Linked DNA regions of Homo sapiens. The protein of the gene in region 1 interacts with the protein of each later gene in a pairwise test. Each region holds a gene or a part of one and is shown on either strand. Other genes may lie near its edges.

Region 1 (3,500 bases):
TGTGTTGTGGGGTCGGGTTGTACCACCTTTGTTTTGGGCCAGTAACAACATGTAATTTCTAAGTGATGTTCCATAGCCAGCTAAAGGCCAGATCACAGTGTCTGAGACATGGTGCTGTGGGCACATTGACTCAAAAGAACCTGGGCCATTGCAATCAATGAGTTAGTCACATTGTGAGTAGCAGTTGTTTTCAGAGAACAAAGTCTATGTCATTTAATTAGTGATGCCAAGTTTAGTTTAATTTGTTTGAAAACAGCTAAACCAGATGATTTCCAAAATAAAAATACACTAGTAATTGGAAGCCTTTTGAATTACTTTGGCTATGGATAGAAACAGTAGTTTATAGATTTAGAAATTTAGGATTTTATATATTGGGTTTACTTGTAGTAAATATTATCATCTGTCTCTTTCAGACAACCACATTAATTGGCAACTTGTATGCCAAGACTCAGACCATGCCATTTTTCTTTAAATTTTCAGGTGTATTGGCACTCTAGTGCTCACATAATGGGTGAAGCCATGGAAAGAGTCTATGGTGGATGTTTATGCTACGGTCCGCCAATAGAAAATGGATTCTATTATGACATGTACCTCGAAGAAGGGTAAGCCATCAACTAGATAAAGAAAACTGAAGTCAATGACTATGGATCCATAAGTTATTCTTAAGAGTTCTCAGTAAGGGAGGAATGATATAGATCTCACTGCTTCTTCATCAGGTATGCCCATTATCAGTACTTGAAGTGTTGCAATTTACCTGAAGTAATAGAGGATTTGATGAGACCTCTGTTCTAGATTGATGGAGGTAGAGTCCTAAGGTATTTTGGGAAATTCAGGGAGACTGGTCCTCCCCTCTCCTTTAAAACCTGGTGATAGAGTTGCGGGAAGGGGTCACTAGTGAGAAAGGTCTCCATGGATGACCAAGGTAGAAGCTACTGAAAATATAAAATGTAAAAATTACTTATGAAAAATGTTTTGTTTAGAATTCTAAGATACGATGCAATAGTCTAATTTTTTAATATTAAAACCCTTGAAGTATTCCAAATACTATTTCCAAATGAACATTTTTCGAAGCCATGGTGTGATTCGAATGGAATGAAAAGATTATACTTTCTTCTCCTTCAGGGGTGTGTCTAGCAATGATTTCTCTTCTCTGGAGGCTTTGTGTAAGAAAATCATTAAAGAAAAACAAGCTTTTGAAAGACTGGAAGTTAAGAAAGAAACTTTACTGGCAATGTTTAAGGTAAATTGAACCATAGTGCGTGGCCCCCACTGTTAATATCATTTATTCATGTTAGTTGAAGTGACACCACTGGCGTTCCGTGTACTAAGCTGAAGTCTAATTGGTTCTTTAGCAAAAATTAAGTGTTTTTATTATTTTTTTAATTTCATTTTTTTCCTAGCAAACCATTCCTTCAACATGTTTTTAAAACATGAAGTATCAACATTTATATTCATACAGTGCTACGTTTTAGCTATAGTACTTAGAAGTAAAAATTAAAGGACAGTTTTTTAAAATAATAATTTTTCCTGTTTTCAGTACAACAAGTTCAAATGCCGGATATTGAATGAAAAGGTGAATACTCCAACTACCACAGTCTATAGGTAAGAATATTAGATGTCATTAAATGTATCTGGTATGTATGTCATTTTGTCTTTGTTAAAATTCCTTTCATTTTATCTTTAGATGTGGCCCTTTGATAGATCTCTGCCGGGGTCCTCATGTTAGACACACGGGCAAAATTAAGGCTTTAAAAATACACAAAGTAAGTAATGTAACTTTAAAGACTGTGAATGTATCTGTCTAGAATAGATATATGTTTAAACTTTCACTGATTTCTCTTTACCATTTTCTGTTGCACATGAAAGGATGGTATTTTCTCATGCTCTCTATTAACTGGGAGCTGTATGCCATCAGGATTTTATAATTGAAATCCCTCAAGGGGTGACTGACTTGCTGTCATTGCCAGAGCAATCACAGGGGATGGAGATTTTACAAAATCATACAGCATGGGCCATCCTGGCTCTATAAAAGCTTTGAGACTCACTGGGAGTATGTGCTTTTGCCCTTTATATGTCTAAATTAATAATTTCCCAAGTTGTTGTTTTTAACAGAACCCAGTTTTATACTAGTTCATAAACATTTTATGGAGGTTTTTAAAATGCACTTTAAATCAAGAGAATAATTGAGTCATTTCAAGATTTTTTTTTTATTGGCTCATTTCTATTTTTGCTCATTTTGTGAGAAATGCCTTTGCAGGCAAAGTAATGTTTGTGGAATTGTGGTTGAGTATTGAGGGGTGGGCAGTTTTGGGGGTATTGGGGTGTAGAATGGGTCTCACTCTGTTGCCCCAAAAAGACAGAGTGGAGGACCACTTGAGCCTGGGAAATGAGGTTGCAGTGAATGGAGATCGTGCCACTGCACTCCAGGCTCAAGCAGTCCTCCTGCCTTAGCCTCCTGAGTAGCTGCGACCATAAGCGCACACCACCATGCCTGGGTAATTTTCTTTTTTTTAAATAAAGAATGGGGTCTCCCTGTGTTTCCCAGGCTGGTCTCGAACTCCCAGGCTCAAGCAATCCTCTTGCCTCGGCTTCACAGAGTGCTGGGATTACAGGCATGAGCCACTGCACCCACCTGCAGATTGAGGGAGGGGCATTTTTGAGGATAGAAAACAGCCAACTTTGTGCTGCAGAATGAGTAACTACTCTAACAAGGCCTCAAAGCAATTGGGAGTTAAAATAAGTGAGATGTTTACAAATTTGAATGTTGTTTCATGGTTAATCCTTGTTTTCAGAATTCCTCCACGTACTGGGAAGGCAAAGCAGATATGGAGACTCTCCAGAGAATTTATGGCATTTCATTCCCAGATCCTAAAATGTTGAAAGAGTGGGAGAAGTTCCAAGAGGAAGCTAAAAACCGAGATCATAGGAAAATTGGCAGGGTATGTTCAAGAACAATGATGTGTCTTGACTGAGTTTTCTTCAACTTCATTTGAAGTTTGAAATTCAGCTGCATGAAGTACTAGGAATTTTGTTTTGAAGAGATGTTGTGGCTTTTTAGTAACTGGTGCTATGTCCTGTACAAACTATAAACACTTACTGATTGTCCACATTATCTGCCTGGAGTATGCTCAGTACCGCACAAAAATGCATTTGAACTACTTTTATTGAGAGCAAACACTGATGATCTACGGTTTTCTGTAAAAGAAGTATAACAGCTTCTCATAGAGCTGGGAGAACTATGGAAACCCTCTAGTTTCACTGACTCATTTAAAATGTGGAAACAGAGTCCCACAAAGATTAACCTACTTGTTGCCCAAGGTTTAGCAGCATGTCGCACATGGATCCTGTGCTATCATTTCCTCTACCCATTATCTCTGTTACTGCTGAATGTCCTCTAAACTGGAAGTTAGGCTAGATAAAACATTCCCCCTTAAAATAGGCACTCTGTGCCAGGGGTCCTTGGCTATTAGGTTATGAAGCTTGAGCTGGAGGTAGCAGCC
Region 2 (4,214 bases), on another chromosome or scaffold:
CCTGTGCTCTGCTGTCTCCTTAAAAAAAGAAATCCTCTTGTTTCATAGCTGAAATATCTTTTATTTGAAGATGCTAGTTATAGAATACTTTTTGAGACCATTTTGTTCTGTTTTCCATTTCCTTCAAATAACAAAAACGTTGGGAAATGCTGTGTTCGTGAGGCTCACACTAGGGGATGCTGAATGTTGGTATTGCCGAGCCATTTCTCTAGGGTCTTTTGTCTACTCATTTCTTCAGAGAAAAATAGGGTTATGGGGAGATAGTGGTAGGGAGCGGTAGAGGGGTGCCTGCATTATGGGAGGGGCAGAGAAGGGGGCTGCTAGCATTGCACTATTCAGTAGGAAAACATCATGGCACCTCTCATCCTTTGTTAGGCTTTGTGTCTGGAATCCCTCTGATGCCCTGTCTTTAGCATCTTAAACTAGTCTTCTGCCTGAACAATTTACTGCCCTCCCTTCTACCTTCAAGGCACCTGAAGCTTTCTGGGGTTCTGCTTTGTGAATCAGTGGCTAAATATCCCCTTCTACAAGCAGTTTGCTCAGTTCTCCTGACACCATCTGCAAAGAGGGTGCTTGGGTTCAGGTAACCTCCCTATGGCTCACTTATCTGTAAAGCATACTTAATATCTCTACCTTTTAGGTTGTTTAAAGGAGTGAACAATGTGTAAAACACTTAGAACAATGTCTGTCACGCTGTAAGGACTGAATAAGTTATTGCTCTTGTCCTCCAAAAATGTGTTGGTATAACCGGTCTGCAGTCATCTCTTCTCTTGTTCTTTTTGCCTTTGTTTGTTCCCTTTGTCATTGCTTTACTGTTATTTGGAGAAGGAGCATTGCTTTACTGTTAAGTTTGGAGAAGGAGCAGGATACACAGGATTAATTATAACTGGAAGTCCTCTTTAATATTTTAAATTAGCTTTACTTTCTTACAGCCCTAATCTTTCTGGGTGACTCTGGACACTCTACTACAGTAATATGAATATGGCAGCCCCTCGGAAGCCATGCAATCATTTCTTCTCTTCAGAAGGACAGCACACTTTCTTTGGAGGGCCCAGGACAATGCAGTGGAAAGTGCTTTGGCTTGGAGGCAGAAGTCCCAGAGGCAGTACTTCTCAGCTGTCACCTCTGACAAGCTTCTCCAGCGTTTCTTCTGTTAAAATGAGCCCCCAAAATGCCTACGACCCGGTTGCGATCGAGTGGCCGACGCCCCCAGTGGGAGTGAGGCCCAGCACGCGAGCTCGGTCCCTCTTCCTGGAGCCAGGTGGGTGCGCGCCTTCAGGCTCACCCGGCGGCGCAAGCGGGAGAAGCCAGGTGCCCTCAATAAACATGGCCGCCACGCCAGCGTCAACCCGGCTCGGGAGGCCGCGCTGCCGCTTGGGAATCGCAGGTTTGGCGTCACCCGGCCCGGAACCACGTGATGCAGGAGGTGCCCGAGGCGGCGGGGCTCGCGCGGGTGGAGCCGCCTCGGCGTTCGAGCGGGGTGGGGGCTGCCCGGTTGAGATTTCCCGGCGGGTCCCGGCCTCTGCGTGCACGCGCCTGCGTGCTCGCGCTCGCGGTTCTGGCGCTGCCGGTGAGGAGCCGGGGAGCGAGGCGGGGAGGCTGGGAGCGGGGCGCCTCTTCTGAGGCCAGAGGGGGCTGGGCAGGGCCGGCCCGGCGGGAAGGGGGTCGGCCGCGCGCTATCAGCGCCTGGTCCCTGAGCCGCGGCGCTGGCGGTGGGGGCTTTTCGGCCCCGGCCCCTCCTGGCAGGGCCCGGCTGTGCAGGTGGCCGGGCAGGGCCGAGGGCCCCGCAGCCCACCGAGAAGGCCCCGCCGGCCTCTGGCCCGCCCACCCGGCGACCTGCGCTGGGGCCGCTTGCACGGCCGCCGCGGGTTGCAGCCTTGGAGTTTAGTTTCATCTTCGGATTTTCCTTCAGAGTCGGAGTGGGAGTGGGACGCAAGTTGGTGGTCTTCTTCGGTCTTTTAAAATAGTCTGGGTTGACGTCAAATGCAGAAATGAGGCAGTGTTGATTTTTTTTGGCGTAAGTACCCCAAGCCTCGGGGGAAATCATGAGGCAGCCGGTTGAAGGAGACCAACTCGGGAAGGAGGAAAAGGTTAGGGAGGCTGAAGTGCTCAGTTTAGGACAGACACTTGCTTTGGACAGTTTGCTAACTAGCCAGTCTGTGTGTATTTTTGTTTTCGGCATTTTTGTCGCCTTTATTAAAATTTCTCAGCAGTTAAACAGGCCGCTGATAGACATAAGGGAATTATTTATATAGCAGATTGCCCAACTCTTGCATTGTATCCTAACCTAGGACCATGCTGTGTCCCCATGGCTTTCAAGCTGAAGAAATGAAGGTCTAAAGTGTGTCAGACGTACCTAAAGAAGAGTTCAAAAGTGTAGCTGCCATCCTTTCCTTAGCTATCAGAGGAAGCAGTCACTCCAGAATGAGACATACACAAGCCCGGGTTCATAGACTCACCCTCCATAAGCTGTGTTGCTAGATTGAAGTTTTTAATCACCAGTGAAGAATTGATTGTCATAATTTTAGGAGACTACTGAAGTTTGCCTTGTTTCTTTCCCTAGGAAAGGAATAATGCTGACAGCATGTCTGCACATTCCATGCTCTGTGAACGAATCGCCATAGCCAAGGAACTGATCAAGAGAGCAGAATCACTTTCTAGATCAAGAAAAGGTGGCATAGAAGGTGGTGCAAAGCTGTGCAGCAAATTGAAGGCAGAATTAAAATTCTTGCAGAAAGTAGAAGCTGGGAAAGTAGCTATTAAAGAGTCTCATTTACAGAGCACTAACCTAACACACCTGAGAGCCATTGTGGAATCAGCAGAAAACCTGGAAGAAGTTGTTAGTGTTCTTCATGTCTTTGGTTATACAGATACCTTAGGAGAAAAGCAAACCCTTGTGGTAGATGTAGTTGCAAATGGTGGTCATACTTGGGTGAAAGCCATTGGCCGGAAGGCTGAAGCTCTTCATAACATCTGGCTGGGCAGGGGCCAATATGGTGACAAAAGCATCATTGAGCAGGCTGAAGACTTCCTCCAGGCCAGTCACCAGCAGCCAGTGCAGTATAGCAACCCTCACATCATCTTTGCATTTTACAACAGTGTCTCCAGCCCCATGGCAGAGAAGCTGAAAGAAATGGGCATATCTGTGAGAGGAGACATAGTAGCAGTCAACGCTCTGTTAGATCACCCTGAAGAGCTTCAACCAAGTGAGAGTGAATCAGATGATGAGGGCCCTGAACTTTTGCAGGTGACCAGAGTTGACCGAGAAAATATACTAGCAAGTGTTGCGTTTCCAACAGAAATTAAGGTCGATGTGTGCAAAAGAGTAAATCTGGACATTACTACTTTAATCACATATGTATCTGCCCTCAGCTATGGAGGCTGCCACTTTATTTTCAAAGAGAAAGTGCTCACAGAACAAGCAGAGCAAGAGAGGAAAGAGCAGGTTCTACCTCAGCTGGAGGCCTTTATGAAGGACAAGGAGTTGTTTGCTTGTGAATCTGCTGTCAAGGACTTTCAGTCTATTTTAGATACCTTAGGAGGACCTGGGGAGAGAGAGAGGGCCACTGTGTTAATTAAGCGAATTAATGTGGTACCAGACCAGCCTTCTGAGCGTGCCTTGAGACTAGTGGCCAGTTCAAAAATTAATAGCCGCTCATTAACAATTTTTGGGACGGGAGACACCCTAAAAGCCATCACAATGACTGCTAATAGTGGTTTTGTCAGAGCTGCAAACAACCAGGGTGTTAAATTTAGTGTGTTTATCCATCAGCCCAGAGCACTTACTGAGAGTAAAGAGGCTCTAGCCACCCCCTTACCAAAAGACTACACAACTGACAGTGAACACTAAAGATACCCTTTAAATATTTTTGTGGAAGTAAGTTATTTATACCAAAGGCTGGGTCTTCCCATCTAAACTGGTGGGAAAAAAGGTCTATAGTAAAAGTAAAACTGAGAACTCTTAAACCAGTAGAGTTTCTTTGTCTCTCATCTAAAGTATATAACCTCCCAAAGTAGAAAAAGCACAAGAGAGAAGCTTATCTATCAAACTGTCTGCATTAGTGCAATTAAGAACCGAAATACGTCTATATAAAGCTTTCAGCTGTATTGTAATACTTTGATTCGATAGGGCTACAACTCCCCTACTGCTAACCACATTTCATGGAATATGGCTACATTGCATCTTGCATTAAATATCTGGAGAAAATTCAAGC

What was found. The genes of interacting proteins can lie anywhere in the genome.
Region 2: the proteins of TARS1 (region 1) and C7orf25 interact in binary tests that used the Homo sapiens proteins (3 or more experiments, as listed by UniProt).

Annotation. Positions count from the first base shown.
Region 1 is NC_000005.10:33,454,465-33,457,964, forward strand, and holds part of TARS1 (threonine--tRNA ligase 1, cytoplasmic), read left to right. Parts: intron 1-480; coding exon 481-602; intron 603-1,122; coding exon 1,123-1,240; intron 1,241-1,537; coding exon 1,538-1,602; intron 1,603-1,684; coding exon 1,685-1,763; intron 1,764-2,792; coding exon 2,793-2,939; intron 2,940-3,500. UniProt on the Homo sapiens protein: Catalyzes the attachment of threonine to tRNA(Thr) in a two-step reaction: threonine is first activated by ATP to form Thr-AMP and then transferred to the acceptor end of tRNA(Thr).
Region 2 is NC_000007.14:42,909,271-42,913,484, reverse strand, and holds C7orf25 (UPF0415 protein C7orf25), read left to right. Parts: upstream 1-1,414; 5' UTR 1,415-1,570; intron 1,571-1,641; exon of another isoform or gene 1,642-2,017; intron 2,018-2,291; exon of another isoform or gene 2,292-2,424; coding exon of another isoform or gene 2,425-2,445; intron 2,446-2,563; coding exon of another isoform or gene 2,564-2,584; coding exon 2,585-3,850; 3' UTR 3,851-4,212; downstream 4,213-4,214.